Regions from separate parts of the Homo sapiens genome. Here region 1 is linked to region 2. Evidence: fine-mapped expression QTL. A gene starts in region 2. The other region holds a variant in brackets. All regions are shown on one strand. Distances are from middle to middle.

The links. PIP is the estimated chance that this variant, and not a neighbour inherited with it, causes the effect. A credible set is the group of variants that fine-mapping cannot tell apart.
Region 1: its variant is the best candidate, but not a certain one, in a credible set for the expression of ZBTB20 in whole blood (INTERVAL, PIP 0.67).

What each region holds. Positions count from the first base shown.
Region 1 is chr3:114,343,781-114,349,163 of GRCh38, forward strand. All of the region lies in intron 11 of ZBTB20 (zinc finger and BTB domain containing 20), which reads right to left. Among named protein-coding and RNA genes, the nearest start is that of ZBTB20-AS1, 5.3 kb to the right of the region's middle. The variant AT/A (reference allele first, on the strand shown) is at 2,903.
Region 2 is chr3:115,144,618-115,150,000 of GRCh38, forward strand. It overlaps ZBTB20 (zinc finger and BTB domain containing 20), which reads right to left and starts at 2,671. Exons shown (of 12, transcript NM_001348800.3): 1 at 2,602-2,671. RefSeq lists enhancers at 1,347-1,456, 3,187-3,396 and silencers at 2,137-2,406, 2,717-2,886, 3,447-3,666.

The DNA of each region.
Region 1 (5,383 bases), 800 kb before region 2:
CTCACGCCTGTAATCCCTGTAACTTGGGAGGCTGAGGCAGGTGGATCACCTGAGGTCAGGAGGCCGAGACCGGCCTGACCAACATGGTGAAACCACATCTCTACTAAAAATACAAAAAATTAGCTGGGCATGGTGGTGGGCGCCTGTAATCCCAGCTACTCAGGAGGCTGAGGCAGGAGAATCACTTGAACCCGGGAGGTGGAGGTTGAAGTGAGCAGAGATGGCACCACTGCACTCCAGCCTGGGCAACAGAGTGAGACTCCATCTCAAAAAAAAAATGGGGGGCCCACACACCTGAGATATCAGCGGTGTGATTGCCTGCCAGCCTTTCTGTTCATTCCCTGGGATGTGATCCTGTTGCCAGCTTGGACTGTGAGGCTAAGAGGGACTGCCTATTGGGAACATGCTGCATTCACAAAATATCTGTGGCTTCAGTGACAACTAAGATATTTTAGTTTTAAGCAGAACTTTGGAGAGTTTCATCCATGCTACTTGACTTTTCTTAAAATTTTGTGAATAGAGTGGATATTAACATCCCCAGAAAATAGCATCTCCAAGTAGAGAGTTGTACTAACATCTTGAAGGTCATCTAAGAAGTCAGTAGCACCTGAGAGTATAATACTAGCCCAACCAGATTATCTTCCTCTCCCTTGTTAACAACTCCTTGTTCTCTGGATTATGCTGCAAAATGTATGATGCTACTATAACACATATTAATGGCTTTGATAGTTTTACAGCATTCATAATTAAGTGTTTTCACATAAATTATGTTATTCAATTCAAAGAGCAATCATGTAAAGTAAGTACTACAGATCTGAAAAACTGAGGCTTAGGTCAGTTACAGAACTTAGCCAAAGTGACTCAGCCAGAAAGTGGTAATATCATGGCCTTCTCACTCCAAGCCTTATACTTGTTACTTTACACCCACTGGCTTGATATAATTAATAGTCCAAGCTCCATATGAGGATTAACACATTATCTTCATATGACTATTATGGCCCAATCACCAACATTGTTATGCTACTATTGTTACTATGTCTATTTACACTGAATTCATGGCTGAAATAGCTGAACTTCTCAAAGTAATAAGCAAAATTACCGTATGTGCAGAGGATACCAATGGGCTAAAAACAGTCACCAGTGAACGGGCTGTTGATAATATGATTCAGAAAACGCCAAAATATTTATCTCTTGTGGGTAAAAAAAAAACACGAAAGTGTGAACACAGATATGTGTACAATATATTCTATAGCAAATAAAAAAAGAGAAAAAACAAAGAAATTTAAAACTCTTGCTGTGAAAAGAATGTATCTGTGTATAAGTCCCTTGAATTAAATTCTCCTGGAAAGCGTGTTCACATTTTAAAATTTTCTTTTATTTATTTTATTTCAATAGTTTTTGGAGATCAGGTGGTTTTCGGTGAATGTGCACATTGACCAAATGAATGGGCATGTGAAAGTGTGATATACATGTATATATACGTGTGTGAAATGTATGTCTCTGTGTGTGTGTGTTTCCGCTCTCACAGAGTTTACATTCTAAAGGGAAGGTGTAAAGATAATACATGATGATATGAATAATACAAGTCAGTCCTGCTAAATACCAGAAGGGATACATTTGCCATGTGACCTATGTAATTTGGAAGACTCAACTTACCTCATATGTGAGTGATTAGTTTCTGTGATATAATTTATCCACTACAAAATCAAGCTTTGATCCATAATTTTGATTTACTTTTTCTAAACAGATTCTTATTAGTGGAATTTTAAAAAATGTTATGTAACAAAAGCAACCTGATGCCATTCTTCTAATTACCCAGGCTCACCTCTCTAGGGAATTGATTCTCAACTTCAGCATGAACCAGGGCTTGTTACACAGATTTCTAGGCTCCATTGCCTGAGTTTCTGATTTAGGATGTCTGGGGTGGGGGTGAAGGGTGGGGGAACATAATTTGCATGCTGCTAGTGTAGGGATCACACTGCTCCAGGGTTATCTTTGAATTTGCCCTATTGCTTGCCTTCCACATCCATGTTGACACCAAGGCTTATCCTTCTTGTATTCTCTGTCTTTCCCTTTCATTTCCATTCCTTTATTTGACTTCTGCTTTTTTCTCTTGATGAAGGGGGTAGAGGGGAGCACTGCTTTCTTCCCTGACAGGATGGTTTGTATTATCTTTGTTTTTTTCTCTCTAATTCTGTTGCTTTCAAACATGCCCTTAACTCTTAGTTTCCTTTCTCACAACTTTTATGAAGCTGCAGTAAGTGAATGAAAGAAACTCCTAGAGATAAGGAAGTCCTCCGTGGTTTGTTTAGCAGTGGATAAAGAGTGGTTAGGTGAGCAATTTTCTTTTACTGTTATAAAAATTGTTAAGAAATAAAAAAATTCTTGTTATGAAGAATATTCAAGAGCAATCTAAGGAGTATAAAGGAGTTTCAGAGTTTAAATTCCAAAGAGGAAGGACACATGTCAAGCATGTATTATTCAGAGACAGGAAATAGAGCAAAGAAACTAAGTGTCTCCTGGGTAGTAGGGGCGAAAAGTAATAATGATGAGGATTTTTAATTTTTCTAATTAAGTAACACTTTGCCTCTTCTGAAAAGCTCTCACATGCATCATACGTTTACATCAAAAGGCAGAAAAAATCATTTTTATTTTAAACTCAAAGAAATAGACAGTTGTGAAATTAACTGATTTGTTGAAGGACACACAGGCATTTAGAGGAAACAAAACTGGATCCAAATCATCTAATTACAGTACAATCGTCTTTCATTTATGCCTCTACTTTAAATTTTTGGGTTATAATCACTATGAAATATGCTTTACAACTAAAGCTTCCTTGATTCTTAAAGGTAGAGCTTAGCTCCAAAGCCAATATGATGGACTACTTCTTTGTCTCAAACAG[AT/A]TTTTTTTTTTTTTTTTTTTGATACAGAGTCCTGCTATGTTGCCCGGGGTGGAGTGCAGTGGTGTGATCTCCGCTCACTGTAACCTCTGCCTTCTGGGCTCAAGTGATCTTCCCATTTCAGCGTCCCAAGTAGCTGGAACTATAGGCATGCAGCACCATGCCTGGTTAATTTTTATAGTTTTTGTAGAGCTGGGGTCTTGCCAAGTTGTCCAGGCTGGTCTCAAACTCCTCGGCTCAAGTGATCCACCCACCTTTACCTCCCAAAGTCCTGGGATTACAGGCGTGAGCCACCATGCCTGGCCCCAAACACTTTCTTTCATGAATGTGGATCATTAACATAGAGCAGTACAAGATTTTAATTGGAATATGAATCTTATAATTTATTCTCTTCAGGTTTTTTTTTTTTTTTTTTTTTTTTTTTTTTTTTAAGAGATAGGTACCCAGGTTGGCCTCGAAACTCCTGGGCTCAAGTGATCTTCCCGCCTCAGCCTCCTGAGTATCTGGGACTATTGGTGTGTACCATCACACACAATTTATATCTGCAGTTGTTGAAAGCAACTACCATCTATATTAAACTTTGGAGTTACTGAATTGCTAAGACAGTTACTCTGCAGGTCTATTGGTTTGCATAGCAGCTGTAATGGAGAGAACTCAAATTTCTTTTTAACTTTGTCAAGCTATTCTTTTTTTTTAGGACTCTTTTTGGTTAGAGTATGGGTGGGAACACAGAGTCCAACTCTACTCTTACAAGTATCCCCGTGCTTTCTAGAATCTTTTTATACTAACATTTGGACTTTTTGCTTTGAATTTTTATCACTTCCACTGGGCTCTTGGAAAGTTTTGAGGCTCCATTTTTTTATGTTTTCCCTAGAAATTGAAAAGAACTTTGTTTGGAAATGCGAGCTACAATGAACCCAGGTCTTGAATTATTTCCACATGTTCCGGCTGTCTTGCTTTTTGAAATCTAGACCAATTGTTCTAAAACTTTGTTAGGTTAGGGGATCCTTCAGTTAGACAATAGTCTTGAAAGACTGATAGGATTTCCAAACTGCCACTGCCAAATAATTCTGGAATGAAAGGGAAGAGCATTACTTCTTTTAAATTAGGTGCCTGATTGATATATGCACATTATTATTTTCAGATGGGGCTATATTATACACACCATTACAATAACATTCATAATTTACTGAGGATGTTCATAATTTACTAGAAAACTGAAGTCCACATTTTAAGCATAACTCAGATTTATAAAATGACTCTACCTATAGCTTTTGCATCTGTGTCTGAGTGCACAAATCCTTTGCTGGTTTTCTTATGTCCAAATCTAGTTATCTCGGTTAACCACAGAATCCTTCAGTGAATCCATTGGAGAAATGTATTTATACATCACGAAGATACTTTTTGGTAGTACATTGAAAATTTTATGTTGCAAATTTAAAGACTTATTTTATTATGTGATCTAACAGAATGTGTGAATTTTACATCTGATAGGTCTACTTGAAGAGATGTACAGAGGGGAGAGCAGATATGTTTATGGATCCAAGACCAGCAAAGTCAACTTTGGTTAAGGAGATACTTTCACAGATGGTCCTTCCTGCACCCCTCCCCCATGTTCCTTAATTTAATGGCTTATAAATCAGCTATCCAGGGGAGGAAAGGATATAAACTATGTGACAGCACTCTATAAATCATAAGATGCTACAAAATAAAAACATTACTATTTGATTAATTCACCTAATAATGGTGATATCCATACCATATGGAAAATTTCTTGTGATTTACCTCTGGTTATTAGTACATTCACATTTATCCCAAGTAAACAAAGCAACTCACCACTACCCAAGTTTCTTCATAAATTCAGTAGTGAGTCACTCTGTTTATTTGGAAGTGTGAATACTGTGATCTTTAAAAACTGATTCTCATAAAAGTACATACATTAATTTACATAATGTCCTGACTTACATTACCCTGCAAAGAAGGCAAAGTTCATCTTAAGCAACGTTCTGTTTCAGTTGTACAATTCCATGTTTGATGCCTTGCCTCTATCTCTGTTGCTTTCCTTCCCTTCAGTCCCCAATCTAAACTTCACTGTTTTATGTCTTCTCTCTTGGATTCCTACTAGCTGATCTGAGAAACAAGGTTGTTTTGAGAAACTAATTTGTTTTCATGTATCAGAATTCGAGTATGTAACTTTTCCCTGGTAAATTATTTGTCATTTAATAAGGGTATTCTGAGGCCAGGCACAGTGGCTCATGCCTGTAATCTCATAACTTTGGGAGGCTGAGGCAGGCAGATGGCTTGAGCTCAGGAGTTTGAGACCATCTTAGGCAACATGGTAAGACCCTGTCTCTACAAAAAATAAAAAAGTTAAATGAGCGTGGTGGCATGTGCCTGTAGACCCAGCTACTTGGGAGGCTGAAGTGGGAGGATTGCTTCAGTCCGGGAGGTTGAGGCTGCAGTGAGCCGAGATCATGCTACTG
Region 2 (5,383 bases):
TTCCATTTAATCTCGTATTTTCTTTTAGTAGCTAGTCAATGTACACATGACCTATATGTGCATTTTCTTGGTTTTGTAGTAATCTTAAAACACGGGCCTAGATGGGTAAGCATAAAGACTTCTTCCTGGAAATGGATAAAATTTGACAATTTTTAACCTGATACTTTCTTTAGCTTGTTAAAATTAGGACCTCACCGTGAAAGGGCATATTGCTGTGGAGGCTGGTAGGCAGCAAACTTGTCACCTGATCTTCATATGCACAAGGCCTGTATTCCACTGGTCTATAAAATCTGAAATCATAAAACCAAAAATATCCAATTGCCCAACTCACTGAGCAGCTAATATAGTTCTAGAAATCTCACTTTTCTTCTTCTCACCTGTTTACTTCAACACCATGTGTCCCCAAACCTAAGGCCCTCCAAAATTGAGCTCCATAAAAATCAAAACCCCAATCTTGAAAATTAAGCCTTGAGTACTGAACAGTTACATCAGCAATTCCTCAAGGGCAATTTCAAAAGCTTTCCTGGGAGACTACTGGAAAGATGGCACAGGGATATCACCATGCACTATGTGTGCAACAACTTTGATATATTCTAAGAATCACAAAGAACAAAGGCATGAAAATCAATGTAATTTTTTTTCTTTCACTAGAAAAATACAGATTCTTCATTTTAAAGCAAAAAAGCAAAAAGTAGCCACATCTTGACTGGACAAACTTACAGTTGACCCTCAGTATCCATGGGAGATTGGTTCTGGGACCTCTCTAGGAAACCAAAATCCACAGATGCTCAAGTCCCTTACATAAAATAGTGTAGTATTTGCATTTAACCTAATCACATTCTCCCACATACTTTAAATCATCTCTAGGTTACTTATAACACCTAATACAAGTAAATGCCATGTATTAATAAATCGTTGTTACACTGTATTGTTTAGGGAATTGTGGCAAGAAAAAAACTATATATATTCTATTCCATCTATTCCCCCACACCCAAAATATTTTTGATCTGCAGCTGGTTAAATCCACAGATGCAGAACCCAGGCACAGGAAGGGCTGACTGTATGTGACCGGGAGTGGAGGGGGATCTATATAAATATTTCCACAAAATAGCAAAGGGTACTTGGGATTGGGAGCATGAACAGAAATGAAAACAAACCATTATAAATTTAAAGATGACTGGTTATCACTTAAATTTAGTGTCTACAGCTATTTATTTATAAAATGGTAATTGTGTTTTAAAACTTTCAATGGCAACAAGTTACAACAGTAACTTCAGAATAGCGTTCACTTGAAAACATTGGGTGAATGGCCTCTATAATTTTTTTAGCTGAAATGTATACACCGCCACGCAGTGAGGAAACTTGACTTTAGCACCCTTTTGGTATTTTTAATAGAAAAAACAGTGGAGAAGATTTTCACATGTCTAGAAAGGTAACATGTTCAACTTAGGTTTGGCCAATGCTGATTCTGAGGACAGTACTACACCCGCAAGCTTCCAAACTACTTCCTGATTCATTCAGATTTTCATTGGAGAGCTGTCATCCTGCTACTGACCTCATTCAACCCAGTTCGGAGTGAGAGATCAGCGGATTACCGCGCTAGGTACCGTAGCTGTACGCCATATTGTGTTTTTCGCTAATGTTTAGTTTGTGTGTGTGCCTAGCATATGTTTGTGCAAGTGTGTTTATCAATAGAACTTTTAGAAAATCCCTGCCTCCTGCCTCTTCAGCATCCTTAAAAAGGATAACAGCTGGGGGCGGGGGGTGGGGGGAGGACCCAAAAGCCACACAGACAGGAATACATTAAACAGTGTACGAGAGACGGCATTTGTTTTAAACTTTCAAGAACCTTCCAACCATTTTTATATCAGGAATCAAAAAGTGTTAACATGTTTTAATGTTTCCGAAGTGGCCCAAAGAAGAGAAAGAAGGAAAGGTGTGTCTTCCCTTCCCAAGCCCCCTCCTCTCTAGTCGTAGAAGCGAAGCAGGCGGGGGCCGGGAGCTCCGGCGTCTGGAGAGACATCCAGCGGCTGTGGGGCCAGGACACCTCCTGCCCCCCAGTTCTCTGAAGACGCTCCAGAGACCGCGAGAGCCACGGCAAGCGGGGGAGGGCGAGGAGGGAGGGGGCAGAAGACAAGCGGGCGCCTCTAGCAGCTCCTGAGCCCCGGCTAGTCCCCCTCAGCTCCTCTTCTTGGAAGCAGCGGCTCCAGGCGCAGGGAGTAGAGAGAAGAAGGCAGAAGACACGTTTCCAGCTGCGGGACGTCCCGCCCGCCCCGCCACCCTTCGACCCTCCCGCGCCTCCCTCCCACCTCCCCGCCGGGTCGGGCGAGGCAGCCGCCGGGCGCTAAGAAGGGCGCCGGGGGAGGGGGCGCGGGCGGGGCGGGGCGGGGCGGGGCGCGGGGGCGCGCGCGCTCATCCAGCTCAGGGCCCGCTGGCTCGCCGCTCTGTAACTCGCTCCCCCAACCCCACCCCGCTCCCCTCCTTCCCAGTCCCGCCGCCCCCCACTCCAGGCGCCTCGCAGACGCCTCATCCCCCTCGGCACGCACACACTCCTCCCTCTCTCCCGCCCGTCCCACAACAAATTAGAGTTTGTGGCATTACCTCCTCGCGCTCTTTAATCTTCTTTCCTCAACTCCTAAACTTCCCCCCGCCCCTACTTCTTCGGCAGAAGGCCCACATTGGACGCTTCACTCCGCGAACCCTCTATCTCTCCCCGCTATAGGATAGCTCTCACGCCAATCTTGGCTTCAGTGAGCCAATGAGAATGGGACGCCCCTCGTGAGGTTGCCGCCCATAAACAAAATGCACTCTTCCTTCTCCCCTCCGCCCCCCCGTCCCCGCCCCTTTCTTCCTCTTCCCTCATCTCTGTCACCTTCGATTGGGCTAAAAGAGGCCCAATCCGCTATCTCAAACATCCATTGGGACGCGGAAACTTCGCTCAGAGAAGTATTAACAGGCGATTGGTGGACAATCCTTCCACTTCGCCCACCCCCACAACCCCCTCCCCCCGCCGCACCTTCACCCTTTCTGAAAAGGTCAATCGTATCTCGTTGTTCAGTGATCCGGGAGGTGGAAGGCTATTGGTTCAGGGAGCCCGTCAGACCGGACTGGAGTGAGCCATGATTGGTCGACACAGGCGCAATCAGGTTAGGTTGCTTACTCCTCCGCTCCTCCCTCCTTTTCCTCCACGCCCCATCTCCCCCACCCCCTACTGCTTTTACTTTCTACGCATTTCTATTTCCTCCTTTATTTATTTATTTGTGATAAACTTAAATGACCCGGCGACGGAGGCGGTACTCTAGGAGAAGGCTGAGGATGACGAGCGGCGGCCTGGGGCCAATTGCCGAGAGGGCTGCGGGGTGAGGGGCAGCGGCGGTGGCCAGTGAGAGGCAGGTGTCTGGAGCGCGCTGGGCCTGTGGAGCCGGGATGCCCCAGCGGAGGCGGCGGTTACCCGCTGTCTGGCGCGGCGAGCTGCGCCGGGGGAGCCGCGGGAGCGGAGAGGGGGGTGTCGCTGTCTTGGACAGCTGAGGCAGCGGGATGGAGGCTGGATCCCGGGCGGTGGGTGGGAAAGCCGGAGGGAGGGTCTGGCTGGCGGCAGCGCGCAAGGCCGCACCGGGTCACGCTTGATTCCCGCGGAATGGGGCGCAGGTTGCCAGACCGGGTCCCCAGTGCTAGGGCTCAAGGAAGAATTTGTTCATGCAGAAGATTTAGAAAAATACTATGTAAAAGAGTTTGGAGTAAGCCTCCCTTAATATAAATGAGATTTATTATCCTGCCGGAAAAAGCAGATTATGTTTCTTATTACTGAACGCCTGAAGTACCAACGACTCAACCAGAGCCCACAGAATTCAATATCCTGGGTGGTAAAAGGAACAAATAAAGCAACACGGAAAATTAAGTGTGGTTCAAATGCTTCAATAAAATCTTCGTCCTCAACCATTTGTCATTCAACATAGCACTCCCCAGAGCCAAATTCTTACCAAATATTGGTCCAGTACTCAGGCATTGGAGAAAAAAATGAGGCTGAAGTCCAGCAGGAAGCCCAGGATAGATTCCTAAAAAGGATTTCTTACAAGGGCCAAGATGGGAGGGTTGGGGAAATCGCTTTTCACTATACAAAGAAAAAAAAATAATTACTGCCAAACTAAGTTGCACTTTTTTAGGCAGCTGATATAGCAATATTTTGTCACAAAATAAGAGACTTTATCAAAAATACCATGCATGCAAAGAATACACTGTACTTGGGATTTGAAAATGACATTGTTTCTAGGACATGGATTTGATGTATAATTTCCAATAGACTTAAGTCATCTGGATTTTAACCCAGGCTTCTTTGGAACGTACAGCATGCTTTCACATAAGATGCCTGGTTAGAGGTCTTTGACAGAAACTAAGCAAAATAAATTGGCCCTGGTGAAAAAAAAAAAAGTAAGGGCCTTGACCTCATTAATACTATTAAAGCTATCTTGTGAGGATTATATGTATGAGGCTTTGAGAATCCAGAAAATTACTGTGTGTGGTGTCAATTTTGAAGTCTGGGAATTGCTAGTGAGTTTGGAAGCCAAAACACTTTTAAACTTATATATAAATCTTAGCTAAAAAGTGATATTGACTGGGTGCAGCTGCTCACACCTGTAATCCCAACACTTTAGGAGGCCAAGACAGGCGGAACACTTGAGGTCAGGAATTTGAGAGTAGCGTGGCCAACCTGGTGAAACCCCGTCTCTACTAAAAAATACAAAAATTAGCCGGATGTGGTGGCGCACACCCGTAATCCTAGCCACTAGGGAGACTGAGGCAGGAAAAATCGCTGGAACTCGAGGCAGAGCTTGCAGTGAGGCGAGATCGCACCACTGTACTCCAGCCTGGTGACAGAGCAAGACCCTGTCTCACAAAAAAAGAAAAAAATGAAAAAGAAAAAAAGTGATTTAGTAAGAATAATAAGTATTCCATACAGAACAATCAGCAGCGCATGAGAAAAATCAGTAAAATTTAACATTGGCGTTCACACAGTTACTCCTATAACTTCTCCAAGGAGCAATGACCACTCCTTCCAAGTCATTCTTAAAACTTGTTGTTTTCAACAAAATTTTAAAGGTATTATTCAACCTATTGGCATGAGAGTTAAGATTATGATAGGGCACACTAGGAAAGCAATGCAAGATATTCTAATTCAAATAATAATGATAAGGTGAAGCCCTAGGTATTACTGCCCCTATTTAAGGTAGTAGTTATGTCCTGTTCGTGTGATATTAGAAACTGGAATTAGAATCTTTCTGCCTCTAAGAAATCCCTCAATTTTCATATTTACATTACACATCTACATACCTTGATCACACTCAGATACAAACACCCCAAAAGATGTACCAAGAATTCCATAATT